6 separate regions of the Homo sapiens genome follow, and regions 1, 2, 3, 5 and 6 are each reported to be linked to region 4. Evidence: microRNA targets listed by miRTarBase, many of them from high-throughput screens and not tested one by one. Region 4 holds a microRNA gene; each other region holds the end of a gene's coding sequence.

Region 1 (5,070 bases), not on the chromosome of region 4:
TTTTCAATGTCATAGTGTGTGGAAATACTACTCCCTTTCCTCCATGTCTATCTTCTTAGATGTTCTGTCTTTGTCATCATCTGCTCCAGCACATACTTTGGACTCCTTTACAGGTGACCTTCCCCCCTCCCTCCTCAATAGGTGTCCTCAGTGTTTTCTAAGCATTTAAAACTGAATTTGACAAGTGGCTAAAAACTTAGTCTGAGACTTGTACTTAGTATATGGTTAATTATAGAAACAACAACTATTTTAAACAGTTACTCTGTTGACTGCTCTTTATGACTACACTTGTATGCCAGGAGGCAGCAGCCTATACACCATTAGACTCTTTACAAGCAACCAACGAACCAATTGCAGTGGTTGCAGTTGTCACAGTAGTCTTGCCTGGGCCAGACTGGGCTGGGCTGTGGGAAGCATTCCCCTTCAGGGGAGTTTCCACAGCTCAGCCCAGGCTCCAGTCTGGCTAGAGAGCATCCAGCCCATTCCTTGCCTCAGTGCCACCTTTTTCTGGGCAAGTAGCCAAGAAGTGACTTTATATGCAGTGAGTACTTCAGATAAACTTACAGCTACAGCTGCCGAAGAGTGGAGAAGGTTGACCACCATTTATTTAATTCTCTAGTGTAAAAACAATTGAGAGCAGTGTGCGTGAGCCCACAGACACCTGTGTTTCTGGGAGCTCTGGCAGTGGCGGATTCATAGGCACTTGGGCTGCACTTTGAATGACACACTTGGCTTTATTAGATTCACTAGTTTTTAAAAAATTGTTGTTCGTTTCTTTTCATTAAAGGTTTAATCAGACAGATCAGACAGCATAATTTTGTATTTAATGACAGAAACGTTGGTACATTTCTTCATGAATGAGCTTGCATTCTGAAGCAAGAGCCTACAAAAGGCACTTGTTATAAATGAAAGTTCTGGCTCTAGAGGCCAGTACTCTGGAGTTTCAGAGCAGCCAGTGATTGTTCCAGTCAGTGATGCCTAGTTATATAGAGGAGGAGTACACTGTGCACTCTTCTAGGTGTAAGGGTATGCAACTTTGGATCTTAAAATTCTGTACACATACACACTTTATATATATGTATGTATGTATGAAAACATGAAATTAGTTTGTCAAATATGTGTGTGTTTAGTATTTTAGCTTAGTGCAACTATTTCCACATTATTTATTAAATTGATCTAAGACACTTTCTTGTTGACACCTTGAATATTAATGTTCAAGGGTGCAATGTGTATTCCTTTAGATTGTTAAAGCTTAATTACTATGATTTGTAGTAAATTAACTTTTAAAATGTATTTGAGCCCTTCTGTAGTGTCGTAGGGCTCTTACAGGGTGGGAAAGATTTTAATTTTCCAGTTGCTAATTGAACAGTATGGCCTCATTATATATTTTGATTTATAGGAGTTTGTGTCTGGGTCCCAGGAACATCTACTGGGGATGACTGTTAGGCAGCTTGTGATGATGTTTTTTAAAAAACCTAAGTAACTTGGGGAGACAGAGCATTTCAAACCCATATAGACACCTATCATACCTGTATATCCCCTAATACATGGAACATAAATTTCATTTCAGCTTTATGCATTAATGTATTGAAGAGGCAGGCTTTTTTTCCAGTAATAATACTGTACATCTAAGGTTGCTATTCAGTAAAACTAATAGAAGAGATAATTATTGAATACCTTGGAATATGTAGTGAGAAGAGGCCAAATTTTTCATGTTTGTGAGCATGTCTTTCAGATACTCGCTAATGGAGAAATTCACTTTAGACCTCTAGACCCCAAAACCAAGTTAGCAAGTGACAAAAAGTAAATTATTAATAGTCTGTAAAGTGGATGCTGGTCTTACAAAGCTCCTATTCACATGAACCCTATGGTTAATTAGAAAGAACTTGCTGTCTCCAGAAAAGGGAATGGAAATAATAACTATGTATCTTCTTTTCATGTAATTTGGTCACAGAATAAGGTATTCAAGTTAAGTCTAATCCAAGTCTTAGAGATCTTTAAGTATCCTAAAATAGCAGCCTAAGTAGTCATCATGTAAAGAAGTTGACTTTCAGGAATGTCAGCATTGACCTCTCCTTGCCACTGTTACTCAGCTAAACATAACTTGCCATTCTTAAAAATAAAAAAGCTCCCACCCAGAAACTCTAGTGATACTCAGTTTTGACCTCTTACTGCTTCCATGTGGGACTTCTTTTCAGCTTTTAACCATTGGAATTTTCTACCTGCTATGTTCCTCTCTGGAAAATATCAATTTGGAAATGCTGCCTTTCAAATCAATGCCATGATCATCCATATTGTTGAGTTTGTTGTTGGTGTTCCAGAAGTGTCCCCATTTTACAACTTTATGCACACACCTGGCAAATCATTAACATGAGCATTCAACAGTACTGGGATGGGTGGGGTGGGGGTAGGGGGCTCACCAACAGAACTGGCCAGTTGACATTGCCTGAAAAGGCACCACCTTTAAGGGCCAGTTGTGGGGTTGGTAAGCACAGTTATGAAAATTTCTATCTAGCCTCCGTTTTGAATGGTTTTAAGAAATTTTGTATATGGAGGATGGAAATGCTTATATATTTATTGAAAATCCTTTTATTTGAAATTAAAATTATTTGGTATATAATTGTTTGATATTTGGGGAGGGTTTTGGAGGGGAGATAATGTCACTGATAAATTAAAAGCCTGTTGATTTTGCAGAAAGGTACTGTTAGTGACTGATAAGGATGCCTTTGTTTTGTACATGAACCAAATCTTTGTTTTACATTTCTTTTATCCAAAATATTTAGGCATCTGACATTTTCAACCAGAATTTCAATTATATACTGTGATTTTTATTTGTTGCAATACATTACAATTTCAGAGGTACTTTGGGGCTCAAAAGCTAGGATTTCTAAGTCAGTATGTGCATTTCACACGATAAAGCTGTTAATGGTGAGCAAAGTATTATATACTAACTAGATTTTTCCACATCTGTATAGTATATTATATGTATTTTGTGGTATTGAGAGTATAGAAAGTTTAGAGTGTCAAACATGCGTTTAATGTGTATTTTTAAACAAATTTATGGCAATTAAAATATTTGGAGACAAGGGTATCACATTTCAATTTGTAAAGATCTTTTTAACTCTACTGTGTCATTAAGATGCTTTGTACAATGCCAAACCATAGTTGGAGAAACTAAGTTTAATAAATATCAAATAGATTTTCTGTATTAAAGTTACTGAACACTGTACTCTTTATATTTCTTCAACTCTGAGCCCTTTTCATGCAATTCCTGTTTTGTGTCTTAAGGTCCGTTACTACTCTTTAAAAGTCTGTTCCCACCAGCTGAGGTCTCATTTTCTGATTACAGAAATTCTGAACTTGCTGGCCATGGGTCCTTGTGCATATGTCAAAATTCACCTTGTCCCAACAGAAATCTTAAATCTCTTTTGGTGCTTTTGGTGGCTTGGGCTTTCATTGCTTTATTAAACTAGATTTTTCTCTCTGTTCTGCCTTATCTTCAGACAGCCATAGACAAACCTGGGTGCTTCATTAGATGGCAAGTGCTTGACCATCTTTTTTTTTTTTTTTTTTTTTTGAGACAGAGTCTCTCTATGTCACCCAGGCTGGGGTGCAGTGGCATGATCTTGGCTCACTGCAACCTCCACCTCCCAGGTTCAAGTGATTCTCCTGCCTCAGCCTCCCAAGCTTGACCACCTTTGACACCTCCCTGAAGAGTATGGAGTGAAGGGATCCAGGGCCACAGCTTAGGAACTTGCTGAAGTTGATTACGTAGCTATTGATTATGTAGCTCTCACTACACTTTCCAGATTGAGAAGTTAACACATTATTGGGCAATGCTGTTTTTTTCTTTAGTATACAAAATGAATCCTTCTTTCCCTCAAAAGCTTGAATTCCAGACTGCTAAAATTTCAATTTGAGACATTTAATAGTATCCATAGAAAAATAAACTCTAAATTGACAAGTTTAGTTATGCTTATCCATATATCAACATTCTAAGAAGAAATGGAGACCAATTTAAAGCGTACATCTGCCTTTAAATATTAAAAATACAAGATTGCTTCACTTGGGTGTCTCCAGCCAAAATGCAGTTAATCAATATTCCATAGAACGGAGCATTGTCGGAGGTGACTGCTGTCCTTTCTTTCCCTGGTATGTACATCATTCCTGGGCCACACTTAAGGAACAGCGTCTTTTTCTAGGGGAAAAGAAAGGGTAGTTTTTTAAGACTGGGTCTAGGAATGACCAGGGCCACCTATGCTGCATTTCCTTCCTCTTTGCTTGATCTGTCCAGTCTCAGGAAAGACTGAAGAATGGAAAGGCACCACTCTTTCATGGTACCCACATAGAGCTGTTCTTGGCTCCTAACTCCTAAGGGATTTTCCATGGAGCTCCCAGTCTCAGTCTAGAACTCCTCCATCCCAGCTTTATTCTTAGGTTCATGTGTCCCCTTGTCACTCCTCTGCCCAGCTTCCCAGGGCTCTCTGGCCCAACCCTGCTCCCAGGTTCAGGGAGTACCTGCATAGCCTTGTGATACACTCAGAATCATCCCGGCAGGAGGCTCCAATAGGCCTGAGGGAAACCCCTCTCCAAAATGGGGTCATTCTCCGTGGCCTTCTCTTTGCCGAACTCACTTCTGGTATTGGGGAGCCATCTATCTGTAAGGGCAAAGACATTCAGATATGAAAGTGTTGACACCCTGCTGCACACCTTGGAAGAGTGATCATTCCATTCCGCAGATGCTGTAGACTCAGAACAGAGGAACCATTCCTCAGGACTGAATCTAGCTTTCAAGTTCCACCACCACTATCATCTCCACACTCCACACACACACATAAGTATCCTTCCCTCCTTACCTGGCCCAACAGCAACAGGAAGATCATGAGGACTGCACAAAGTTTGAGGTGCCACATCTTGACAGGGGGAGGATGTTGGAGCCTGAAAGCCAGGGACAGTTCCTACTTCCTTTTATAGACTGACATCAACTCTTGCATTGTTACTGGGTGAGATGGGGGCAAAGTTTATATTTGTAATCAGAATCAATTTAATAAGTTAATGTCTACCGGAGGA
Region 2 (5,087 bases), not on the chromosome of region 4:
CTGGCCCTTTGCTCGGTTAAGTATTTGACTTCACATTACTGTGTCCCCTTGGTCCTGGGAAAGAAGACAGATGGAAATTGAGCTTTTCTTTTTAGGTCACAGAGGGTGGTGCTGAGACCTGGGCCCATCACAGCATCGTTCACGGCTCTGGAAACAGTGGTAAGGATTCTTCTTGCAGTGGAGGTCATTTGGGAAGTCATTGCTTGTGGATCCTCGGATGGGGACCCATAGGGCCTTGGCTAGACGAGGGAGCTCCTACAGCCAGGAAGGCAGCTTTGGGTGGGGTAGGATGGGGCTGGGGCAGTCACAGAGGGCTGGGCTGAGAGGTCTGAGCAGCTCCTGTACTCAAGTGGATAAATCGCCCTGGGACAGAGGCTATGTGTGCAGGAGAGACACGGTGGAATGAGGAGGGACAGGGAGGATGCTCGTGGCAGGAGGAGCACAGGCAGAAGCCAGACATGCAACGGGAGACACGGTACCAGGGACCTGGTTGCATGGGGGAGGTGGAGATGCTGGGCCAGTACATCAACCTTCACTGCTGGTGGGCGCAGGTAGCTGGGCCTGAGGGGACCAGGTCAGAGACTTTTCCTGTGGGTAACTCCTGCTTCTTCCTGGGAACAGTCCTGGACAGTCTGCCTCAAACTTTGGGATTTATTTAAAATAACTTCTCTTTCACTTGTAGCTCCTCACAAGCAGCCAAGCTCACTTACCAGGCTGCGGGTGCACAAGGGGTAGGCTTTAGGGGCTGGCTTTGGGTGCAGGGATCATGCTGCCATTGGAATGTACCTTGGCCTGTGGGACACTTGGGTTATCCACTGTTCCCAAATTTAAAACCATACTGAAAGAAGAAGGCAAGAAAATATTTTCCTGAGGAAGTAACTGGCATGATGGCCACCTTCACTTAGTGGCACTATTTGCAGCTACCAAGAAATGTCAGGGTCTCTCCTTATGGGGAAGGACAAAGAATGGGTAAAAGCTGCATCTGGGGGGACTTGTGGCCAGGAGAAATGACCAGCCTACCACTCTGTTTCTTGTCTTCCTCTACTTATTCCTTAAAATTTAGGACCCCACAAAGCCCCCTTCTTCCCTGCTACCTTAAGCCCTTCTCTCTCCAACATGCAAAAAAAATTCCCACCTAAACTTTGTCAGTGATTTTGATGGCTCAGTCTGGTACCATTTTCCCTGGGAGGGTACGGGATAAGTTGGAGGGGAAGGTAAGGAAGATGGCCTTTTCTCTCCTTCTGTCTGCTCATGACTCAACATAATGGTGACCCTACAAATTAACTTTGCCTCGAGGGAGGCCGTGAAGGGGCCTCCATCCCACAGGACAAAGTTGGCCCAATTCCTTTCTCTGGGAGCCCGCAAGCCACATGGACAGCCCCTGGATGTTTGCTCTGCCAGTGGGGTAAGGAAGATCCCTGGGGGAGTTTGGAAAAAAGATTTGGGTGGGGGATGGGGGGCAAGGACAGCTTTTTGACAATGTTGCTTGTCTTTGCTTTTAAATACCATATCACACGTGCACCAAGAATCCAAACGGAAGAAATGGAAAACAAACAGCAGAAGATAATTTTTATAAGCAAGATGGGCTGTGGCTCTGGATACCTGGCTCAAATTTCTCAGTCCCCAAGCAGGCCACGGGGACTGCAGCAAACAGAGCGGCAGAAACAACCCACCCACCAATTAAAGTCAAACCAGCCCCAAACCCCTCCCCCAGGAGAAATGGGGACAGCCAGAAAATTTGTCTGTCCTTGTCTCCTCTTTCTTCCTAACCTTTCTATTTCTCTGAGGTGTTTGAAATTTTTCTTATAACAAAAACATGGAATAAAATAAAGTCCTGTACCGCCAAAGTAACAATAACAATAATCATCATCCAGTAAAAAATAAAAGCTTCAGCAGAACCGTGATAAGTCTTTTTTCTTTTTTTTTTCTGCTTGTTTGATTTTTTCTCTTAACTGTGCAAAAAAAAAAAAAAAAAATCAAAATGCACTCACTCATACACACGTTCACACACGCAGCTTCCATCCAGCAAATCTGTGTTAAATACGTTTGTGTCTCTTTCCTCCCCAACCCTTTATATGTGCAAAAATATTGTAGTGACCGAGGTACTTCCTCAGACCGTCTCCCACATGTACCCTTTCTGGCCTTCCAGGTCCTGTGACTGACTTCTTGGGAGGGAATAAAATGATCAAGGATAGAAAAGTCAAGCTTCTCCACCTGGTACTGCACTTGCCAAAACCTTTGGTTATTTATTTTTTTTCTTCCTCTTCCAATGCATTGTTTCCCATTTTCCTCTTCCCATTAGGTTGCTCATGTCTTTTCCACCATCTGTCCTCTGCGATGTCACATGATGCCCTGTTCCAAGGTCCAGGCCTCGGCAGGCGACCACCCTGATTTCCTATGGACAAGCGCCCTCTCCTTCCACCCACCAGCTCTCAGCATAGAAAGCAAGTAAGTGTTGAAATGTCCTGAAGCTGCAGGATGAATGGATGAGCAAGGGGAAAGAGAAGGGGAACACTTCAAAAATCCTCCTACAAAGGACAAGAAATCCTTTTGAGCTTTCCGCCTACACCTGGGGCAGACACACACACACACATACATGTGCTCACACACATGTGCACATATTCATATCCAAAGGGGCAAGTGTTCTTAAAAGTACCGGATGCTCCATGGACTTTGCTGGAAATGGTGTGGTTTCTTCCCCAAGGGGGGCTCATTCTGAGTGGGTGACAAGGAATGATGTCTGATGTTTGGGGAGTGAAGGCAAGACTGTGAATCCTTCTCCTCAACCTCACCTAAGATGTTTCTCCTTGTCTCCCATAGTGGTGAACAACTCCAGAGCAGAGGTGCCAACAGAGACTCCTGCTTAGGATGGGAGACTGCACCAGACAGCACCTAAGGTCTCCTTAGGATGAAAGGTTCCTAGAACCCTCCATTAGACCATCTCTCCCCATAGCCTCTGCTTACCTAGTATCAATTTCTAGGCACACATTTGCCTGCCTGGCTAAAATCGTGCATCTGTAGATGTAAGAACAGATGGGGAGATGGATGCCAAGGCCAAGGTCATTTGTATGTCCCTCTTCTTAATTCCAGCCAGGCCCATCAGCTCGACTCTTTGTCCCTCCCAGATCTGACAAGCTGGAGGCTGAGGTTGGCTGGCATTTTGGGCTGTCTCCGTGAGGCTTTGCTTAAGTCTGTTTCTTTCAAGGATGACTGCTGAAGAGATGAGGAAGGAGAATGATGAGAGACAGCTGAGATGTTGATGAAATCATTCCCAAAGAGGTCTGGACAGCCCAGTGACAAAGTCATCTGCATAGCAATGGCACCGGATTCTGCAGAGGGAACAGGGACTAGGCTGTTGGCCCCAGCCGTCTATGGAGTTCTCAGGAAGGATGATGGGGATGGAGCCATGGAGATGGCTGGAGGTAGAATCTCCTAGATGCACTCTGCATTTCACGTTGACCCTTGATGAAGGTTGACAAAGGAGGGTGGAGATAGATGCTTTCTCTTGACAGCACTCAGGGCTCTGGTAGTGGACTAGACCTATGACTATGATTGTGACTCATTTGAATTTGAGGGTAAATGGAAAACAAATTCTGCTTCCAGGGTAGATGCAACTCTCTTTCCTTTTCTCCCCCTGTGTTACATTTCTGCTACTAGGATTCAGATGAAAAGGTCAGGAGCATCTCCATGGTGGAATGTAATTGCTATTCTTTCTCCTGCCTGGCTTTCTACTGGCGGGGGAGCAGGCAGGGCAGGCAGGTCCCTCTGGAGACCTGGAAAAGGACAGGAAGCCTCTGGACACCAGCCCAGTGGGGGAGAAGGAGCCTCAAGGAGCACCTCCCAGCTGCCCACACATGCCCTGCTCCAGCCACATGCAGGAGGTGTAGCCTTTCTTCTCACAGCTGCAAAGCGATCAGACCACTGGCTGAACCACTGGAGATGGAACTGTGGGAAGGGAGAGCCAGGTGATGTCTTCCCAGTAAAGATAATACTGAAGTCCTTCCTTGCCTCTTCCCTAGGCCAAGGCTCAGACCAAAGCAGGGGCTGCCAAAGTGGAAGGTGAAGTAGCAGCACAGAAATGTCCCCTGTCCCTGGCTCCTCATTCGTTATTTGCACCCTGCTGCTGACATGCACAGGGTCAGGAGCACCTGGGAGACAGAGGCCTCTCTGACATCTTCTGGTCAGCTCCCTTGCCATGGGCCTGGCCATTCTTGGACTAACTGAGGGTCAGTGGCTTGGTCCAATCGTGTTGGCAGAGCAACTGGAAGAGAAGAGATCCAGGAAGGAGGGAGAAACGGAAAGAGGCAGAGAGAAAGAGAGAGAAACAGCGCTGCTCAGGGGATGCTGCTGATGCCAGTCGGAACTTGCACTTGGTAAAGATGATAATCTAGACTGAGGCACGGCTTGGTGTGTCCCCCTCCAGGGCGGCCCTGGAAGGACGGTTCTCAGCTGTCTAAGCTCATGAGGGTTATGACTTGTTCTAGTTTGTAGGCCAGTTTCTGCTTCCCACACTGGTCATCGTGGTCCAGAGGTCCAAGGATCTGCGGAAGGGCCAAGAACAGGGAGATTACTCATTTGTGTGTACAGGTCTGTGTTCTCAGGAGGCACAAAGATGGTGTGGATGTGGTCAGAAGCCCGGGAAGCCACAGGCATGTGCAGGGGCACACAGGACACTGCGGGGTAGGAGGAGACCTGGGGAGCATGGGCAGGAAGTTGTGGCAGGCATAGCATGTGAGCATCAGCATGGCAGTGAGCACAGGATGCCAGCACACACAGTCATGTCTGAATGACTGTGTGCATTCTACTGGCTACAAAAGATGGTAGACAGAGGGCAGAAGCTCTGCTGAAAGTGCCTGTGCCGAGATGCTGCAGTTACCTGCAGGTTAGACAGCAGCTAGTTCCATATCCGATGGAAATGCGTAGTGCTCAGCATGGAGCCGGAATGTGATTTCATGGATGTTAAGACATCCCACCCTTCCTCCCGCAGAAATAAAAATCCATCAGCTCCTTGAGGCCCCAAATTCTACATTTAGAAAGTCATTTGTTTTCACTTTGCCTGTTAAAAAACAAATGTCCCTAGAAGAGTA
Region 3 (5,087 bases), not on the chromosome of region 4:
GGCCTGGGGAAGAAGAGAAATCAGCTTCTCTGGCCGGGGGCGGGGGACAGCTTTCTCTCCCCCTTCCCTCCCTACAGGCAGCGCGTTCCTCTCTGTCCTCCCTTCAAAGGCGCGTCCTAAGCAGTGTGATCCACCCCACGGTGGCAGCTCTTGGCCAGCGCCAGCCTTTCCTGAGGCGCCAGCTTTCCTTCTTCCAGCCTAGGCGGCCTGTGGCGGAAGGAGCTGGAACTGGACCGGGAAGGCCAGGTTCTGGCACTGTCGCTGGCTGGCTCTGGGAGCTGTGGGCACCTCAGCGGTAGAATGCGGCAGCCCGGGAGGGGAACCAGAGAGAAGGACCGCAGTCTTACTTTGCAGGCGGTGGAGCTGCATGTACTAGCTGGTAGTGAGCGGCCTCTTGGCTAGACGTGTGTGTGTGTGTGTGTGTGTGTGTGTGTGTGTGTGTGTGTGTGTGTGTGTGAAAGCAAGTTTATTAGAAAAGTAAAGAAACAAAAGAATGGCTAGTCTGTAGACAGAGCAGCCAAGACTTTGGACTTGATGGTTGTTGTCATTGATTCTGCAGCCTGGATCCTTCCCCGACCCCTCTTTGGTCAGGAGATGGCTGTCACCTTGATGTCCCACCCAGTGGGGCTCCTGCCGAGGCTGCTGAGACAGGCAGAATCTTCCCTTCTACTTTCCCGGGTGCCCTATTGACTTGGTTTCCAGATCAGCAGCTTGGGAGGGAGACAGTGACCCCAGCCCCTCAACTGGAGATGTGGACAGCACACAGGGTAGGAACTGAAGCTGAATCCACCAAGCGTTTCACTTACATCCTTCCCCGCCTCTGTCCCTTGCCTCTGCAGGTAAAACAAGTCCCAGTTCTGCCAAGCCTAGCAACTGTGTGATTTCCTGAGCTGCGGGATGGTGGTGGGCAGGACGTGTGGATGCCTGCCTGCCCTGCCCTGTGCTGTGGAGAGCGCAGGTCGCACACTGCACCAGTTTGCACATCAGACGCCAACTGGCCTTCTGCCCTGCAGCCTCCGTCCTGGCCTCAGGGACGCTGGATCCCAAATGAGAGGGTCCGAAGCATCTCAGTCACACGCCTCCACCGGACTGTCGGTGGCTGGGCAGGGGTCAGTGCCACGGCCTCCTTGTTTACATGAAGTGGAAGCTTGACCAGTGTCTGCTCGCCTTTGTGCCCCACCCCCTCCGCTGATTGCCAGATGGGGTGAGGGCCCATTCTTTAAACCTTTATGGGGTGGGGTGTCTGGGGCAGCTGCAGTGGCTTCTCCTTTCCCAGGCTTCCTGGTGCTTCTGGTTCCCCACGCCACTCCCCACCCAAGAGATTGGTGGAATAAAAGGGAAGAGGGCAGGGCCCTGAGCCTGGGATCCCAAGTTCCAGTCTTTCTCTAGCCTCTGAACTCCAGATGTAAGGTGCAGCTGGAACTGCAGGGGCACTGGCTGCAGTGGCCTTCCTGGCCCCATCCCTGCAGGCTCCTGAACTAGACTTGAATGAGGGTAAGATCCTGCGGCCTCCCGCAGTGGGGGCAGAATTTGACACTGCTTTTCTGAGAGCGCTCGCACTGAGGTCTCTTTTTCCCTGCCCAGTGCCGTCCTGGCAGTCTCGGCATGGGTGGTTGAGACCTCCTTGGCTGCTGCCTGCTGCGGGCCTATGTGGGGGTCCTTACAGGGCCTTTACCTGGGACTGCTCCTTCCCTCAGTCAGTAAACTTTGGTTTACAGCCCAAGGCAGGGAGGGAGCTTGGCTGAGAGGGGATTGGGGGTGTGGGAGGCTGGGCCCTGAGGACAGGAGCATTTGCCTTTTCTCCCTCAACTCTAACGGGGTCCTCGGACCCCTTCACCAACCAGGGCTTCCAGGTTACACTTTGGCCAGACTGGCCTTTGCCTCCTGCGAGAGTCAGGCCATTTTTAGGAGCCTGTGCCTCGCCAGAGCAGGTCAGCCTAATGGCCATGAGGCTGAGCTGGGAGGCCCAGTAAGCAATTCCATTCTGCCTTCCCCACTTGGGTGACTGGAGAGGGCCGAGGAGAGTTTGTGAATGGACCTGGGAGAAATTGCCAAACTGCAGACTCTGTGAGCCGGCCCTGCCGGCAGGGCGATGGGGGATCCAAGCCCTGTGGAAGAGCCATGCAGCGGACTTTCTTGCCCTCTGACCTCTGAACCAAACTCTCATCCTCTTTCTTTCCTTCTAAAAAACCCTAGGACACTACCAGCACCTGGGGGAGGGGTACAGATGTCTGCAAGGCAGCTGATGTGAGAGCAAGAAAAGGGGCTGCTCTGGCTGGGCTGTGGGAGCCAGGCATTGCTTCTGAGGAAGCAGGAAGTGGGGACCACATGTGGCGGCCATTGAGGAGATGCAATCTCTCTGGCAGTGGGGAGGGGAAGGGAAAGGAAGGGTGAGCCTGTCCCCAGGGTCTTCTCTGTTAATCCCAAGGCTGGCTTCTAGGGCGTGTGGAGAAGGGACTCTGGCCCACCTCCCTGAGCTTTTATGAAGGTGAAATGCTTCTGGGAAGTGTTTCCTTAGGCACCAAGACCAGGCAGTGTGGCATGAGCTCATTCTGGAGGGGAGGGAAGGGAGAGAGGGGGGAGGTGGGATGTGGGGGTGTTACACCTCAGCTCGAGGCGGACACCTTGAAGGTATGGGACATGAAATGTGTAAACTGCAACGCGGCAAAGAGATCACTCTCTGGTGTGGAGGGTGGGTGTCTCTGGGGATTAGGGAGGCAGCCTGGGGAAGGGACCGGCCTCCAAGCAAGTCAGCCAAGGGCATCTGTGCCTCCCCTGCCAGAAGAGCAGGCCCTGCTTTGTCCCTTTACCTCCTCTAGGCCCAAAGCACACCCAGGTCCCTCCCCTGCCCTGACATCTAATCTGGGAGGATCCCTGATTGGAATCTCCAAGTCACCACAGCCTTGAGCCAGGCCTTCCTTTCTGCCTCAGTTTCTCCATGTGCCAAGATGGCGTTTTTCACACTTTCTTGGTAGAAATGATGGGGAGACCATATGTTAGGAAGCAAGTTGGCATAGTGGGAAGAGGGCCAGCCACAAGGCAGGAGTGCCCAGGCAGGGTGCCTCTCCCTGCTGGCCTGTGTCCTCGTCCTTATAGCAGTGTGGACAAGATGGTGTCGGCACCCCCCGCTCCAAAAGGCTTGAGACAGAAACTGTAGTCCGAGATGGCAAGGATTTTGAACTCACAAAATGCAGCTCTTCATGTTTGCCTGTCTGCCTAGGCACCGGCCCACTCTGTTCTGCCTCTTGGCTTCTCAGCTGTGAGTACGCCTGCCCTCTGTTCCAGCACTTGCACATACTTTGTGAAGCAGTCTCTTACTCATCAAATCTCAAGGGTACATCTGGCCCTCCCAGTTGGATGGCAAGTTCAAGGGTGGATCATGCCCTTGGTCCCTGCACAGCAGCTTCTGCAAGGCTGGTTACATTGGAAGGGCTCTAGGAGGAACAGGATAAGGCAGCACTCTCGGGGCTGGGGTCTGGCTTCACTGCACCCCCCTCCCACCCCACACCACCACCAAGCTGCTGTCTTTCTGAGTCAGCTTCTGTAGGGTAAGTGTTCACAGCTGGTGCAGCTCTTTGGGAAACCTAACCTCCCAGTGAGCTGAGCCCCTGGTGCGGCCGCCACGCTTGCTTCTGCCCCACAAGGGCAGTAAGCACAGGACTTCTGGATGGATCTGGGAGCCTGCCCCTTGGGATTTGGCAAAACTTCCCATCTCCTTAGCTACCTGTCCTTAATCTTATCCCTGACCCCTCGAGGGCTTTCAAGATAGCCTCTGTTAACATCACTACCCTCTGCCTGTGTAGAACTTTATAGAAAGGCTAGGCAAAAAATGAGACCCAGAGATATGGAAGAAACTGGCCAAAGAGGGGAAAGTGGGCTATTTCTTTTTTTTTTTTCTTTTTTTTTTCTGAGACAGAGTCTCACCCTGTTGCCCAGGCTGGAGTGCAGTGACAGCGATCTTGGCTCACTGCAAGCTCCGCCTCCCGGGTTCACGCCATTCTTCTGCCTCAGCCTCCTGAGCAGCTATGACTACAGGTGCCCACCACCATGCCTGGCTAATTTTTTTATATTTTTATTAGAGACAGGGTTTCACCATGTTAGCCAGGTTGGTCTTGATCTCCTGACCTTGTGATCCGCCCGCCTTGGCCTCCCAAAGTGCTGGGATTACAGGCCACCGTACCCGGCCAGGCTATTTTTTTGTTTTGTTTTTGTTTACTACTGTATTGCTTTTCTCTTTTTCATATTTATTGAGCACCTACTATATGCCAGTCACCATGCTAGATGCTTTAGTAACATGAAGGTTTCAAACTAAGAAAAGCTCAACAAAGAGCCCTTTAGAAAGGTAACAGTTTTCCTGTGTATTGGGGGAGTGGGTCTCATAAGGTTGTATGATGAGAAGCGCAAGTAATTGTTTTGTTTTTTTTTTGAGACAATGTCTTGCTCTGTCGATCAGGCTGGAGTGCAGTGGCGTCATCTCAGCTCGCTACAACCTCCACCTCCTGGGTTTAAGTGATTCTCTGGCCTCAGCCTCCTGAGTAGCTGAGATTACAGGCACGCGCCACCACGCCCGGCTAATTTTTGTATTTTTAGTAGAGACAGGGTTTCACTATGTTGGTCAGGCTGATCTTGAACTCCCGGCCTCAGGTGATCTGCCTGCCTTGGCCTCCCAAACTGCTGGGATTACAGGCATGAGCCACCACGCCCAGCCTGGCTAAGGTTCATTATCCCCATCTTTCAGATGAGGAGGCACACAACTCTCCCCAGATCCCACGTCACAGAGAATGCAGGTCTGAGTCTGTTCCTTGAGCTCAGGGTCTTGGCAATGGTGATGCTTTGGAGCTGCAGAATCCTCTGTTGGGGATGGGGCTGCCCTGTGCATTATAGTACGTTTAGCAACATCCCTAGCTTCCACCTACTAAATGCCACTAGCACTCCTTCAGATGAGACCACCAAAAATGTCTCCAGATGTTACCACATGTCCCCTGGGGGGTAAAAGTGCCCCCGTTGAGAGCACTGGCTCTTTTCTTCACAGTCCTGACCTGGTGGCCTGCACAGGCCACTTCTCCGAAGTGTTTCAATGCACTCTC
Region 4 (5,087 bases):
AATCATGGTTATTCAATAATTTTAAATTATCTTATTGAATCACCCTCTTTTAATTTCTTCCAAGCATTCATTGAGCTCTATCTAAAATGATCTAATTTGTCATACAGCAGACGCTTGATAACTGGACTTTGTCAAGGTCGACGTTGTCCCCCAGCATCTAGAACAGGCTTGGCACACGGCAGGGTTTCAGTGTGTGTTGCCTGGTAGGAGGACTCATTCTCATGGGAATCTGCCCCATCTTCCATAACACCTCTGTACTGGGTATGGCCATTGAGGACCCCTTCTCGGGCTTCCCTGGTGCATGACCCTCAACCGGAAACAAGTTCCCCATTTCTGCTTTATACTGTCTTCCTTTGAAAAAACAACAAATGATGAGGAAAAGCTACCCAGCATGTGGAATTTGCTAGATGGTCAAGAAGAGGCCAGTGGCCAATGTGGGAACCACTTTCTGACCAAACATTCTGATGGCTTTACTCATGCGGGGCTCCTCCAGTTTCCAGATGTGCTTCCCTGGTCTCCTCCTCTTCCAGTCTTGGCTCAGATGGCGAATCATACAGAGCGCCTTTGCCCCACTCACCTGGCACCTGGACCACCTCCCTCATCCCTCACATCACATCATGTTGGAATTGTCCCTTTATCCAACCCCTGCCCAGACACTGAGCCCCTAAGTGGGGACAGAGCTTGTATATGGGGTTGGAAGAAGTGACTGTAATAGCAGCTGACATTTCCTGACCATGAATCTGGTGCCAGGTTCTGTGCTCACTGGCCTCACTGGAATTCTCTTATTCAGTCTTCACAATATCCTGATAGCCTAGATACTATTATTATCCCCATTTTACAGCTGAAAAAAATGAGGCACCAAGAGGCTGAGTTATTTTCCTTAAGTCTTACTGTCCAGGCAAACCAAGAGTGCACTTGGGGAACTTGACTTGAAAGCTCTTGCCCTTAACCTTGGCACTATACTGTCCCCCCAAGCTAATGTTCCGGAAATATTAGTGGAGAAATGATTAAATCCTACAGTCCCTTACAGATAGCACCACAGAACCTGTGGTGTTTACAAATGCTTTCAAGTCATCATTTCCTTTACGATCATCATACTCTTGATTTTAAAGGACAGTCTAAAGGCACTCCAGGCCGAGTCCCCTAACCTTACCCATCTGGAAATTGAAAACAAGCACCATCAGTCTCCAAGGAGTCCTGAGCTGGGGGTGCTTTGGTTCAGTTCCTACCTGCCACTGAGGAGAAAAATCAGAGTGGGCCTGTGACGTGGACTAGATGTGCAATCTGTGTTGTGGGGTCCAGGCCTCAGCCTGGGGACACCCTGTGCCAACTCTCTTTACCTTGGCTCCTAGATTGCCTGTGCCGCTGTTGACTGTGTCAAAGACAAGAACCAAGACCTGTGCCAGCAGGAGGCGGTCAAGGGCTACCCCACTTTCCACTACTACCACTATGGGAAGTTCGCAGAAAAGTATGACAGCGACCGCACAGTAAGTGGGGGAGAGGCGTCTGCCCAGAGCTCTCTCTCTGCTGATGGGCAGGGAAACTTCCACTGAGGAGGGGCAGCACTGGGCAGCATCCCAGAAACTGCAGAAGTCAGCTGGAACACTGCACCGAGAGGCCCAGGCCCTGGGCCTGGCTGAGGCTTGACATTGTTGGAGGAGAGTCCCAAGGGGTTGCCACAGATGTCCTGTCCCCAGAGGCAGGCTGGACTCCAGATGCCGAGGGTTTTCTCACTTGCTGGTCGGGGCTGGTGCAAGCCACGCAGACCCTCTCCACCTTGCAGAAGTCTGCCCACCTCTCCCTGTCATAGGAGTGACCCCCTGGAGGGGCTGGGGGTGTGGGGAGAGAGAGTGCACAGCCAGCTCAGGGATTAAAGCTCTTTCTCTCTCTCTCTCTCCCACTTCCCTGCAGGAATTGGGATTTACCAATTATATTCGAGCCCTCCGGGAGGGAGACCATGAAAGACTAGGGAAAAAGAAGGAAGAGTTATAATTCCTGCCTCAGAAAAAGCTTTTCCATTACACTGTGAATGATACCTGTTTTGTTGTTTCTGAATTTCCACATGTTCTGAAGACAAATTTTTTATAGCCGCTTATGGCCATTTTGTACAATTTTGAAATAAAATTAAACCATTTATTTGGTGGTATGGTTTATTTTCGTGGAGCCTGTACTAAAAAAGGTGGATACTCACATCCTCCTCATTCCACCACCTCTGCTGGGAGGTACAGAGCAGTGCTCCAGTGCCCCATCTGCATGGAGGTGACTCCTGAGGGTGTCGGCCCCCTGTCAGTCATTTGAGAGCAGAACAGGGAAACTGGACCGCAGAATATCCTGCTGGAAAATGACAAGCTAATGAGAGGAAATACGTCAAGATGATCAATGACTTTGGGAGGCTGAGGTGGGAGGATCACTTGAAGCCAGGTGTTCAAGACCAGCCTGGGAAACATTATGAGACCTCATGTCTACAGAAAATAAAGTTGCTGGGCATAGGGGTACATGCCTATAGTCCCAGCTACTTGTAAGGCTGGGAAGGGAAGATTTCTTGAGCCCAGGAGTTCAAGGCTGCAATGATCTATGATCGCATGACTACTCCAGCCTAGCTAGAAAGCAAGACCTGTCTCAAAAATAGAAAAAGAAAAAGAAAGAAAAAAACAAAAGATGATCAGGGAAATTGGGATGCTGAAGCAAATGGTAACCAAACACTAGCTTCTTCTGGATCATTGCGGTTTCAGCATTGGTGTGTTTCCTCTGTGTGTGTTTTCCTGGAACTTACTTAGGTATTTATCTTTCTCCAGCTATTTGTCTTCTCTTCGTCTCTCCATTCCCTCCCCAATCTCCCTTTAAAGAAAATTAAGTTGCCGCTTCAGGGGCATGAATGGAGTGGGGGAAGGGGGGCTCTGTGCCAGCTGCTTGCTGTGCACCCTGGCTGGAAGGGATGGTGTGTTCTCGAGGTGCAGATATTAGATCTGCTCACCAGCCCCCACCACCAACCATAATAACCCCAAATCTTTACGCCACGTTTTCCATGGATGGGTGCCTTGCTCGGCCTCCTGCCTGTGTACATCTCCTTTTTGACCCACCTTTCTGGTGAGTCCTCCTGCTTTCTGCATTCCTGCGTGACTGACACCCCAGCCCTGTGCCCAGCGGTGCAGGCAGAGCCTGAGCACAGCAGTAACATGTTTTGTCTGCTTGGTGGTATTTCTCCATGGACAGCAGAGTGGCCTTGTGCTAGTATCTTGTCTTTAGTTATAAGTAGCGGTCCTAGAGTTGGATTCCTCCAGTAGTTCAGGGGGGCGTTGCTTAAGCTGCAGTACTTGGAAGCACGCTCTGGTGGCCTTGATGGGGACTTGGCCTGCAGGAACAGCCCTCCTTTCCTGGACCCAGCTCCCTTCCTCCTGGCCTAAGTCCTTCCTGCTGATGAATCTGCTGAGAGGAGGACAGAGCCTCCAAGTTCTTCACAGCTGTTTTGACGATGGTGCCACTGTGGGTGGTTTCATTAAGGGAAATCAAGGTTTTGAGAGCCCTTGTTCTGTGCAGTTCTCCAACTTTCCAATTGACCCTCCTGCCAGTTCAGCTCTTCTCTTTTCCCCTAAGCACCCACTTCCTTGGCAGTGGCCCCTGGACTTCACCCAAGGATTGGATATGAAAGACAGAAGCATACATTTAGACATCATTGAAACACAATTATTGAGTCCCTTCCTGTTGGGGACCATGAACATCTTACAAGGTGTCATTTAATCCTGACACAGGTGTTTACCATTCTAGCATGTGTGTGTCTGGACATGGGTCTCCTTCGTTATTTGGAGTATTTGTAGGGGGAACATATTTGCTTGTGTTTTTCAAAAAAGTTTTTTGTTTGTTTGTTTTTGGGTTTTTTTTACTGCACCTTTTCAATAATAATCTCACAAGAGCCACTTCCTGGCTGAGGACCACTAGTGCCCACCTGCGAGGCACAGGGCTTACTTTCTGGCCATTCCACATCCTCAGAGTTCAGATTTTCCTGGCTTAGCTTCTATTTGAAGACTTAAAAACATGAAATATTGTCAAATATAGATTTAAAGAAATTTTTTAACACATCATGAAATGGAATCCTCTTCACATCCCTATTTATTGACTTTGGGCATGACCTCAGCAAATTTCGTCGCAGCTCTGGGCAGCTCCCCCTGCGGACAGAACTCTCTTCCTCCACTCGCCCCCTGGCATCCGGGTTAGTTCTACTCCCAGTCACCATGCTTGGTTCTTTGTGGTTTCACTGATGTTTAGTGCAGACCTCCTCCCTCTGCCCCACTGGAGGGCTTGCTATCACCCTCCTCTGTTCGCCTGGATCCTGCGTTGCAGGCTGATTTCTCTGCAGGAAGTACGTGAGTTAGGGGAGAACTGATCCCCATCTTTATTCTGGTGCCCCTTGCCCAGCAGTGAGTCCCCATCACCACCTAACTGGAGCCTTCCGAGCAGGACCCTGTCTCTCTTACCTTCCTCATGCTGCTCCCTCCCCTTCTAGAGGTGTTTGGCTTCCAGGAGCTGTTCTGCGCCGGGCACGGGAAGGTGATGCTTCCAGGTTCAGAAGCTGGTTTTCTCCACCGCAACGTAAGAAGATGTGGAATCTCATCTGGAAAGCATCAGGCCCTCTTAGGAAGGCAAAGCCTATGTCCAGGGGTTACATCACCTGCCCACATCACATGGAATAACACAGGCACCAGCCCTGCCCGCAGGAGGCTCCCAGTTTGAGAGTGAGTGCACATTGGTGCTCAGAACCAAACTCTGTGCATTGTGCTCTTACTGTTTCCCATTCTTTTATTGTTGACTAGAAGAAGGAAGCTGATATTCTTAAGCTATCTATCAAAACCAAATTATGCTTATGGTCCCACCAAATATATGTCACCTCCAAAATCTTCTATTTTAGGCCAGTGTTATCCAATAGCCATTAGCCACATATGAGTATTGAGTACTTGAAATTTGGCTACTGCAGCTGAGTGAAGGTGTGTATGTCTATGCCTTTTTATATTGTGGTAAAATATACATAGCACACAATTTACCATTTTAATCATTTTTAAAGGTACAATTCAGTGGCACTAAGTACATTTACA
Region 5 (5,087 bases), not on the chromosome of region 4:
AGCGAGGCAGGGTCCACGGCCGGGGCGGCAGAGACCCGGGGGGCTGTGGAGGGGGCAGCCCGGACCACGCCCTCCCGGCGGGAGATCACCGGTGTGCAGGCACAGCCAGGCGAGGCCACGTCCGGCCCGCCGGGGATCCAGCCCGGCCAGGAGCCCCCGGTCACAATGATCTTCATGGGTTACCAGAACGTGGAGGATGAGGCCGAGACCAAGAAGGTGCTGGGCCTTCAAGATACCATCACGGCGGAGCTGGTGGTCATCGAAGACGCGGCTGAGCCCAAGGAGCCTGCACCACCCAACGGCAGTGCTGCCGAGCCTCCCACGGAGGCCGCCTCCAGGGAAGAGAATCAGGCGGGGCCCGAGGCCACCACCAGCGACCCCCAGGACCTCGACATGAAGAAGCACCGTTGTAAATGCTGCTCCATCATGTGAGCCGGCCCCCGAGACCCCGGCCCCCACCCCACACCACAGACACCCACCAGCCCGGCCCCTCCCGGCGCCTGCCCACCCTCCACCCACAGCCTCACGGGTCCAGGACTTGGCGTGTTGTTACATGTTCCTTCCGAGTTTTCTTTCGCTGGAAAGAGGGACAGGGGCCCCCACCCGTCACCACGCCCCAACACTCCCCCCGAACCAGAGCCGTGCACTTGTGCCTGGTAGGAGAGAGACAGGACAGACCCGCTTTTCCCGAGACAAGGACCCCCCATGTCACGGCAGCTTCACAGACGCGGCTCGCGCCCACCGGGGTCCTGGCGGGTGGGACCCGCAGCCTCCACGCGGCCCAGGCCAGCCTGCCACCCTCTGGGCCTCCTACCTGTGCCTTTCTCTGAGGGGACACCCCGCCAGAGAGGGCCCCGGGAGCCGGGGGTGGGTACTGAGGCCTGCTCAGGCCCTGGAAGTGAGGCTCTATGGGGTTCCCTGGCCAAGGCGCTGGCCCCCCAATCTCAGGCAGTTGGGGTGAGGCCGTGCCTCTTTGGGGGCTAAAGGTCTTGGGTGGAGGACAGGCCCCTCTGCTGTGCCCCTATGCCCTGTGTGGGCCCAACCAGTGGACAATGGAGTCTGGGGGAGGGGGAACCCCGGGGACATGCCCCCACCCGGGAGGGGCCGGTAACCCCTGGGCTATCTTCTAGACGGGGCGAACCAGGGGTCATTGACCTGCCCCCTGCACAGGGCAGGGACCGAGTGAGCCACTCCTTGTCCCGAGCTCCCGCCCCCACTGGGCCCTCCTTCCTCCTGGTGCTAATTTGGGGACCCCAGGGGCCGCCCCCGGCCTCTTCTCCATCCTGCTTGGACCAGGGTCCTGGGTCTTCCCAACCATACCCCGAGATCAGGCCCCACCTGCCAGCTCTACTGGGCTTGGAGCACGTCCGGGCAGTGGAGGGAGGGACACAGCCTGGGACAGGAAGCCTCTTGGGTTGGAGCAGGAGACCCTCATTTGCCACCCAGACCAATGTGAGCCTGCCCCCAGCCCCCTCTCATTGGAAGTGGCAAGGGGCTTCCCTCCTGGGGGCAGCTACACTCGTCCCCAGAGGCACATTCGTGCACATTCTCACAGACACCGTCTCACACGTTGGCTTTGGACAACCAGGCCCCAACTTGGTCCCTGCCCTAGGGACCTCCAGCCTGGTGCCCAGTGCTCAGGCCACCTCCTGGTCCAGTCACCACCTGCAGCCTCGGCAGGGCAGGTACAGGGGCCACCTCGGATGGGAGCCTGGGTCCCTGCCTCCGCTCTGCCCCTGGGTGGCTGGGAGGAGAGGCCCTCTCGGGGGTGACCTGGGCGTCAGCCGTGGAACCCCCTCCTCCTCCCTGGAGTCTGCCTGAGTCCCTCGAGCCGCGAGCCTTCGCTGAAGTGCCCTTGCTATAACCCCCTCTGCTTCTGGTGTGTGACGAGGCCCCCGATGTTCTTGATTTTCCCAGAGAAGCAAATAAACAGCGTGAACAGCCCCAGTTCCTGGAGTTCTTGCCTTTCAACCTGGCGAGGAAGGCGTGGCCAGGCCAGGGGGTGGGGCCTGCCGGCCTTTGAGCCATTAAAGGGAGGCTGAGCAGGGTTGCGGTGTGCTGGCTTCACCTGCCTGCACCCGCTCACCCTGAGCGCCTTGGGGTGGTGGGAGGCGCTGGAATCCCCACTGTGCAGGTAAGGCCTGGCTGTAAGGGGCTGCTGTGGGGGGGCAGGACTGGCTTCCCGGGGGGCCCTCGGGTTCTGCGGCCGCCCCGTCCTGTCCTTTGTTCCTCCCTTTGCTGGGCTCACAGCCCCTGGGTGATGACAGAGGGTCCCCTGGACACCCACAAGCTCTGTAGAGAAGCCGGCCCCTGGGAAATACACAGGAGGCCTGGGGAGGAGGTGTCTGTAGAGACCAGTGTCATGCTCACGGGAAGGTGCTGCCCCGCCAGCCCCACTCTCTCACGCTGTAGTCTTGGAGAAGTCGCTGCCTCCTCTGGGCCTCAGTTTTCCCATCTGTAAAATAAGCCTTCGTGGCCGGGCACGGTGTTTCACACCTGCAATCCTAGTACTTTGGGAGGCCGAGGTGGGCGGATCACAAGGTCAAGAGATCGATACCATCCTGGCCAACATACTGAAACCCTGTCTCTACTAAAAATACAAAAACTTAGCCGGGCGTGGTGGCTCACGCCTGTAATCCTAGCTATTCAGGAGGCTGAGGCAGGAGAATCGCTTGAACCTGGGAGGCGGAGGCTGCAGTGAGCTGAGATCGTGCCACTGCACTCCAACCTGGGCGACAGAGCGAGACTCTGTCTCAAATAAAATAAAATAGGCCTTCGGAGCCCTGAGTGGGAGGCCAGCCTCAGCCTGGGCGTGGGACGTCTCCACAGTGCCCCCAGCTCATGGGCGATCCAGCCTCCACCCTGCTGGGGCCTCAGTTTTCCCCGATGAGGTGGTGAGTGTGGTGGAGAGCACTGCTGAGGGAACTCAGGTTCCAATTCCAGCCTAAACCCCCGCCATTCCTGAGGCGCGATTTTAAGCTTTCCGTACCTCCGTTTCCCTATCTACAAGCCAGGGAGAAAAGGACGTGAAGGGGGTGGCGGGAGGCGGCGGTGGGAGGCGCCGTGAGGCCGCGCACCCTGAGCTTTCACACACCCAGCAGCGTTAGGTGCCACGCTGTCCTTTGGGGGCCCTTTATCCAGATTTGTCCTTAAACACCCCCATCTTGGCCAGGCGCCGTGGCTCGCGCCTGTAATCCCAGCACTTTGGGAGGCTGAGGCGGGGGCATCACCTGAGGTCAGGAGTTCGAGACCAGCCTGGCTAACGTGGCAAAACCCTGTCTCTACTAAAAATACAAAAATAGCTGGGCGTGGTGGCTCATGCCAGTAATCCCAGCTACTAGGGAAGCTGAGGCAGGAGAATTGCTTGAACAGGGGAGGTTGCCGTGAGCCGAGATCGTGCCACTGCACTCCAGCCTGGGTGACAAGAGCGAGACTCCGTCTCAAAAAAAAAACACAAAAAAAGCACCCCCCTCCTGAGCAGCCCTGCTGGATTCGTAGCTGGGGGCCTTTTTACTCGAAGAAGAGACTGAGGTTCAGAGGGGCTCCACAAGCAGCCCCTCTGGCGTAGGTCAGGACAGAGCCCCAGCCTGGGGAACTGAAGTCCCTGCCCCCTCAGCTGTGTTCCCTGCCCTCATAGACGGCGCTAGGCCCAGTGGCCCGACTTCCCCACAGATGCTGGGCTCCCCACAGTCCCAGCAAGGCCTCTGCACCTTGACTAAGAATCCAGGAGGACCATGGGCGCCTGAGGGCCTCTGCGTCCCCATCTCTCGGGGTGGCCTGGGTCTTTTGACGGCCTCGTGCGGTTCTTTTTTTTTTTTTTTTTTTTTTTTTTTTGAGTTGGAGTTTTGCTCTTGTCGCCCAGGCTGGAGTGCAGTGGTGTGATCTCGGCTCACTGCAACCTCCAACTCCTGGGTTCAAGTGATTCTTCTGCCTCAGCCTCCCAAGTAGCTGGGATTATAATAGCGTGCCACCATACCCCGCTAAATTTTGTATTTTTAGTAGAGACGGGGTTTCGCCATGTTGGCCAGGCTGGTCTCGAACTCCTGGCCTCAAGTGATCCGCCCGCCTCGGCCTCCCAAAGTGCTGGGATTACAGGTGTGAGCCACCAAGTCCGGCCCCCTCGTATGGGTTTTTATGTGGATGGGGCCTAGGGAATTCCTCCCAGCAGCCCTGAGGGAGCCCGGGCGTGATGTTCCCCCACGTCCCGGAGGAGAAAACAGGGCTAAGAGAGGTCAGGTGGGATCAGAACCCAGGCCACACCAAACCCCCCCGAGTCTGCCAAACCTGGTTTATGCAAGAAGGGGGCCATCTAGGGGAGTTGCCCCAAGGGGTGGGCTGGGCCAGAAGGCACGGACGGGATTGGGACTCAGCCCCTCCGGCCCCCCAGGAGACACAGGCCACTGTGCACGCTGAGCTGCTGTGTGGCCCTGGACACCTGCTGACCCTCTCTGAGCGGTGCTGAGAGGCGGTGGGAGGGCCAGGCAGCCAAGGGAGGTTTCGGCTGAGTTCTGGCTCCTCGGGGCCACCTGGAGGCCCTGGGGGTGGAGGGGCAGCCGGCAGCGGGCACGGTGCCCGCCCTTGCCCAGCCTGGTATCCTCTTTCTCCCTCCTCCTCCTCTGGACTTTGTTTCCTGATCCCAGGTGGGGCTGGGGGGAGGGGGCACACCTGCCTCCCCTGGGTGGGGCCTCTGTTCCCTGGCAACCTGGCGGGCAGGGCGGAGCTGGGAGGCCTCTGTGCCCATCGAGGAGTCAGAGTGGAGGCTGCAGACTGTGGAGCCGGGAGCCGGCAGGTGAGGCTGGGGGCGCCCCGGGCCGGGCCGGGCGGGGATCCTGTGTGGGGCGGTTGGATCCACATTTGGCGTGGGAGCGTCATGTGTCTGTGGGCGGGGTCTGCTTGCCTGGCGGCACTTGGGATCCAGGGAGGCCCCCTGCCCCACCCCGTCACCCTCGGAGCCTCCCTGAGGCACCTTTCCCTCTGCCCCCGCTAGGTACTCTGGGGCCTCAAGGGCACCCACTGGGAGAGCAGAGAGGCCCTTGTCCCTGAACTCTGCTGGGGCTTTTGAACCCCAAATCCCAGAGCCCTCCAAG
Region 6 (5,000 bases), not on the chromosome of region 4:
TAGACCATTTTGTTGTGCCCTTTCTGGCTTCTTCTCATCTCTCCATTCATACATATCTATATCTATATCTATATATATATATAATCCCTATAAGGCAAATGTTACTTTCTAATCAATACATTTTTCCTTGCAAAATGAAAACTTTAAAAAAAAATAGAGGAAGGCACTTTGTAAAATGTGCACAAATCTGTTTCTTTCTTGTCTACTCTAAGGAGATAGGGAAGTTGCTAAAGGCAGGGCCAAGTCTTTCTGCAAATGATGGGCAGTGGTGGACACTTGAGGAAAGAGAAAGCCAGAGTTTCCCCAGAGCTAAACTGCAACTTGGAATGCAGGGACCTCTGGTTGCTCAATAACTCATAGGCTTTTCACATTCAGCTGGGTCATCACAAGACACAGAGCAAAACTGCCCAGATCTTGTACAGGCAGTAAAGGATTGACCCCTTCAGACCAAGCCAGTTAAAGTGAGTCTTTTGTACTTAAGTGACTACCAGGATTGGTCTTAGGCACTTAGGAAAATGTAGAGTCTGTTATATAGCTAATAAATGTAGGATCTGTTAAATATCTGACACAGCTGATATAACTTGTGCTTATACACATCTGTTAGAATGAATTGGAACATCTTGCTGTTCAGGTTGTAAGCTACACAAATCACCCGTTGCCTAGATTCAGTTTCCATGCGCCTTAAAACTTGAATATTTAGGTATTTGTTTATAAAAATACAACTTATTATAACTCAGAGTGTAAGGATACATGAGCCAACTGTGCAATGGTTGTTAACAATCTAGGATGGTGCAAGGAAAAAAATTAACAGCCAAATATAAGAAAAGAGATTTGGGGCTGTTGGATTCAGCAAGGAATGAGCATGGCTTGATTCAGTAAAAGATCATTTTTCTAAAGATTAGTGCCTCATTCAATATGTCTCTTCTCAATCTCCTGCCTCTTTTTTTAAATGCCTCTTTCTACACATATATTTGCACATAATCTTAGAATATGATTCTGTACACATTTCACTTATAAAATACTTGTGCAATATATTAAGACCAACTGGAATGGACGGTTTAAAAAGCAAAGTATAAAGAGCACATCACTGAAGATTACTTTGTATTTCTATGATGAAGAGCAATTTTTTGTTAGATTAGGATAGAAGGCATTGGTTGGGATTATCTTTGCAGAAAAATATTCAGTGAGTCATGGAATCAAGGAGTCAGTTTCAAAGGACCTTAGAGGTTATCTGGTCCAACATCTTCAGAGGAAACTGAGGCTTAGAGGGGGGAATTAATCTCTCCAAGGCAAAGCAGTTAGGACCAGAATCTAGGTCTCTTCACCGCCCCCCTGCCCCACATGTATCCTTCCATTTGAACAGCTGTCTCCTTGATAGACCACAAAAAAACTTTTTGTTAGACCACAAAAAAGCTTAATTCAGATAAACAGTGCTAATTGATCATAGAATTAAAGTCTTGGCCTAATGAGTGGCTAATTGTTTTTTAGGGATTTAATTCAAGTCCTTAGCTGTCACATTTTTTCATACGTATTATACAAAATTATATGTCAAAAGCAGATTACTTTTATGTTTAGGTTTTCAGACTATAAGAGTGACTGATACATATCTTCTCTATTCTTAGAGAATAGACTATGTTAGGAAAGATTTAGTCTGCATTGGCTTTGAGGGTGACTGTCTTTGGTTAATGTCTCTCAAGGTAGATTATATTCCTTGGCCTTTCAGAAGTTGTGCGTAGTTTTGCAGGTCATTCTTTTATGTGAATTCATATAAGATTCAGCATAATGTGAATCTTAAACTACTGATATGTTTCTTTTTTTGCCTGCTTACATGCAGTGTTGTTCATTGCAAGTCAAACAGACTTGATCTGTCCTTTCCAAAAGAGGATTGTTACTATGAACTAAAATAACCTTTAGTGGAAATGGTTGTCTAGAACAATGCTTCTCAAACTTCAGTGTGCAATTGAATCATTTGGGGATCTTAGTAAAATGCAGATTCTGATGCTTAAGATTCTGCAAATGGAATTTTCAAACACTGCCCAGGTGATGCCTATGCAGTTGGTTCTCAGACAGTTAAAGTATCGAGGATTTAGGGGACTGAATGAGCTTGGACAACTTTCCCACACGCTTCCCTTACTCACATGATATTGTTTATATATTAGAAAAATGGAGCTTCGTATCTATTGCTTTTGCCATTCTCAAAACATTGGCAATGTGTTCACTTTCAAACAGGAGGGGGACCTCTGAGTCCAGTTGCTATCAATATGGGATAGTTGGGGTGGAATATTTAACTCCCAGAGGTGAGCTCAAGTTCTCTATGTCCAGCTAGTAAATGGACATATAGAATGGATTTACCATCAAGTGAAGGGAAAAATAGAGAGGGGCTGCTAGATGAGTCATGGATGCGCCCTTTAAAATGAGGATCCAAGCTTTGACTTCTTTCAGGAAGCCTGGCACTGGAATTGACCGGGAGATTCTCATTACCTTACTCTGACCTTTGGAGCTATTCCCATTGCTCTGGGAAGCAAATACCTAGTTTCCCAGAACTTTTATTTGGACACTTCTGATATGAGCCATTTCTGCCTCTGCCAAGATTTTGCAATTGAATTTACTTCAGAGAGACACTAACTCCTGGCTTTGCTTAAAATTTTTTTGTGGCCCAAGATTTCTCACAAAAGCAAAACCTCTCTCTTTTAAACAGCTGTTAGAAATCGTCGCCCTCCCTTTTTATGGTAGCTTTAGGAAGATTCACCCATTGATGAACAGGAGTCCCAGAGGAGCCTGAAACTCAAAGGAGAAATAATTTCTGGTCTGTGGAGAATCCTAAATCCCTAGGTTGGTGGTGGTGGTAGCAGTTGTTTAAAGTGTCCTGGAGATCAAAAGAATCAGATAAACTATACTATATTGCGTTGAAAACTGAATTTTGTCATTCACTTCATATTTCACAGTGGGCTTTGGGTTGGTATGGCATTTTACTCCACAAACGGGAACTTTATATACTACTATGTACTGTAAATACACATTATAACCTTGCAGCAGAAAATACTGTACCCACTGAATACATAAACAGCTGTACTGGGAAAATAGAAAATAGTCTTTTATTTTACCTAAGTCATAGAAAAATAGTCTTCAAAAATACAGTTAAACTTATGGGTTTATATTAAAGTAGAATTTGTATGTACAGTAAGGCAGTAATTCCATTAGCATCCTGCTGTGGTTTTCTTTTCAAGTTAGTCTTTAGGGAATTTTTTTTTAACTAAGGAAAGACTAAGGTGTATAATAAATTATCTATCATGCTGAAATGAAGGAGGAAAACATCCTAAAGGGATTCACATGAAATTCATTTGCCCCTTGTGTAAGAACATTTTTATTTCCAAACTATATTTTATAGAAGCTTTAGAGTAGAATTTAGGGGGAAAATCCATGCTTAACATATCTAAACTATTTTAAGAAAAAATTGGAGGCATTATTTCTTACTTGCATATCAGCAATGTGTCAGTAAGGTATAGGAACTTATGTAAACAATTTGTTCTGGAATGCATTCTTTCTTTAAATGGTTATATTTGGGTAATCCTAATAAAATGGACGAGGAGTGTAAAGGTTATGCAGTTGTTTTTCAAAAGCAATTTTCATGGCATTTTCCTATGTGGAAAATTTTCTTTTGTCATCTTTCTATGGTAAACAATTTTGACAATTTCATTTCCGTCTGTCCCATGCCAAATCATGAAAGCCTTTTCCAGAGGATATACCTATTGGCATTGTCCCTCAAGAATACTAAGCAGTGTGCTTTTATTTCATTGAACACATAGTTTTATAACTAACAGCAAAAAGTAAATCTACAAATCACAGTTAGGAAACATAATGATTTGTTCTGGAATCAGCTGCTGGAGAAAGAGGCAAGTGGTTAAAAATGGAGCATGAAAGGAGCTGGGAGCTTTAGTAGTGTCAGTCTGACTACATTCTTGAGCATTTCACGTACTCTGTAGTGTTACCTGAAGAAAAATCACATTTTAACCAATCATTCCATTAGTCAAGCTATCAGTGAAAGGAGTGTGTAAAACATGCGGGATCCAGGTAATCCAAACCACCCAGCTGGAGCCTGCACTTGCTTGATGTTGCAGTGAAGTTGGCCAGGGCTTTCTCAGCTTGATTCTGTTCAAGTGATGGTGGGGCCTCTTTGGCTGATTCTTCAAAGCAAGCCACGTTTTTAGCATGTGGATCTGGCACCAACACCAGGATGTTGTTATCCATGACCCCGGACACCTTGGCATACTCCTTATTGTTCTCAGGAGTCCCGGGCTTCTTGGGCTTGCCGCTGTTCTCTCTCTGTTTTGGTAGCAATGATAATGCACCATCTTTGTTGACCTTGTGAATCTCCACATAATCCAAGGGTTTAGCGGAGCCAAAGGGGGTTTTCTCCTGGGGCAGCAGCCAGGGCGTATCCTGGTCAGTCTCAGAATGGAAGCTTTCTACCTCCCTCTGCTGGGTTGCCTTTCCCTCTTCTCTAGACTTAATGGTTTGAGAGGATTTTAAAGCATCTTTACCTGCTTCATTCAACAGAGTGGCCGGTGCACCTGCAGGGCCCACAGCCAGCTCACACACATCAGTAATATTGTGGTAAGAGGATCTGGGGTTGTGCTGGCTGGGCTGTGGTAAGGGCCATGTTGAACATTTGGATCCACCAGCATGAAAATAGGGGATTTTGCCTTCCATGCTTATGCACTGGGGGTCCCAGGTGTGGGTTGTTTCAGGATTCTCTGGCTTCTCAATGACCTCAGGATCATAGAATGTGGAGGGATTGGCCTGGGGTTCCTCACACTTTTCAGACAAAAGGGAAGGGCTGTCACAGCTCCCCCGGCCTGAGTCAGTGTCAGGATCCAGGTATGTGGGTTTCATACCTTGACTTGGGTGTTCTTTTGAATGGACTGACATTAGATGCTGGTCCTCACTATCATCTACTTCTAAATACTCCACCAGCAAGTCCTCATAGTCAGAAGTGGGAG

The links. The annotated mature microRNA hsa-miR-7110-3p reads UCUCUCUCCCACUUCCCUGCAG and lies in region 4 at 1,890-1,911, shown strand. An mRNA with a match to its seed (bases 2 to 7 or 8) in the 3' UTR can be bound and repressed. Matches are read on the target gene's strand: a 7mer-m8 pairs with bases 2 to 8, a 7mer-A1 pairs with bases 2 to 7 and ends in A, and an 8mer does both.
Region 1: the mRNA of LEAP2 is a reported target of hsa-miR-7110-3p. Seed matches in the 3' UTR shown: 7mer-A1 at 3,587-3,593.
Region 2: miRTarBase lists PLXNA4 as a target of hsa-miR-7110-3p. Seed matches in the 3' UTR shown: 8mer at 1,105-1,112.
Region 3: miRTarBase lists FAM83F as a target of hsa-miR-7110-3p. Seed matches in the 3' UTR shown: 7mer-m8 at 2,570-2,576.
Region 5: miRTarBase lists PALM as a target of hsa-miR-7110-3p. Seed matches in the 3' UTR shown: 8mer at 661-668.
Region 6: the mRNA of PRLR is a reported target of hsa-miR-7110-3p. Seed matches in the 3' UTR shown: 7mer-A1 at 2,683-2,689 and 7mer-m8 at 2,682-2,688.

The regions. Positions count from the first base shown.
Region 1 is chr5:132,873,538-132,878,607 of GRCh38, reverse strand. It overlaps LEAP2 (liver enriched antimicrobial peptide 2), which reads right to left and starts at 4,940. Exons shown (of 3, transcript NM_052971.3): 1 at 4,857-4,940; 2 at 4,519-4,658; 3 at 3,562-4,198. The coding sequence starts at 4,913. The coding sequence ends at 4,162. It overlaps AFF4 (ALF transcription elongation factor 4), which reads left to right. Exons shown (of 21, transcript NM_014423.4): 21 at 1-3,213.
Region 2 is chr7:132,126,034-132,131,120 of GRCh38, forward strand. It overlaps PLXNA4 (plexin A4), which reads right to left. Exons shown (of 32, transcript NM_020911.2): 32 at 1-4,541. The coding sequence ends at 4,446. Among named protein-coding and RNA genes, the nearest start is that of PLXNA4-AS2, 130 kb to the right of the region's middle.
Region 3 is chr22:40,028,677-40,033,763 of GRCh38, forward strand. It overlaps FAM83F (family with sequence similarity 83 member F), which reads left to right. Exons shown (of 5, transcript NM_138435.4): 5 at 840-5,087. The coding sequence ends at 889. Among named protein-coding and RNA genes, the nearest start is that of TNRC6B-DT, 13 kb to the right of the region's middle. RefSeq lists an enhancer at 2,045-2,564.
Region 4 is chr3:123,159,969-123,165,055 of GRCh38, forward strand. MIR7110 (microRNA 7110) reads left to right here and starts at 1,826; the gene lies at 1,826-1,911. PDIA5 (protein disulfide isomerase family A member 5) reads left to right here. Exons shown (of 17, transcript NM_006810.4): 16 at 1,353-1,487; 17 at 1,912-2,136. The coding sequence ends at 1,992.
Region 5 is chr19:746,383-751,469 of GRCh38, forward strand. It overlaps PALM (paralemmin), which reads left to right. Exons shown (of 9, transcript NM_002579.3): 9 at 1-1,947. The coding sequence ends at 432. It overlaps MISP (mitotic spindle positioning), which reads left to right and starts at 4,730. Exons shown (of 5, transcript NM_173481.4): 1 at 4,730-4,789.
Region 6 is chr5:35,061,054-35,066,053 of GRCh38, forward strand. It overlaps PRLR (prolactin receptor), which reads right to left. Exons shown (of 10, transcript NM_000949.7): 10 at 1-5,000. The coding sequence ends at 4,036. Among named protein-coding and RNA genes, the nearest start is that of AGXT2, 16 kb to the left of the region's middle.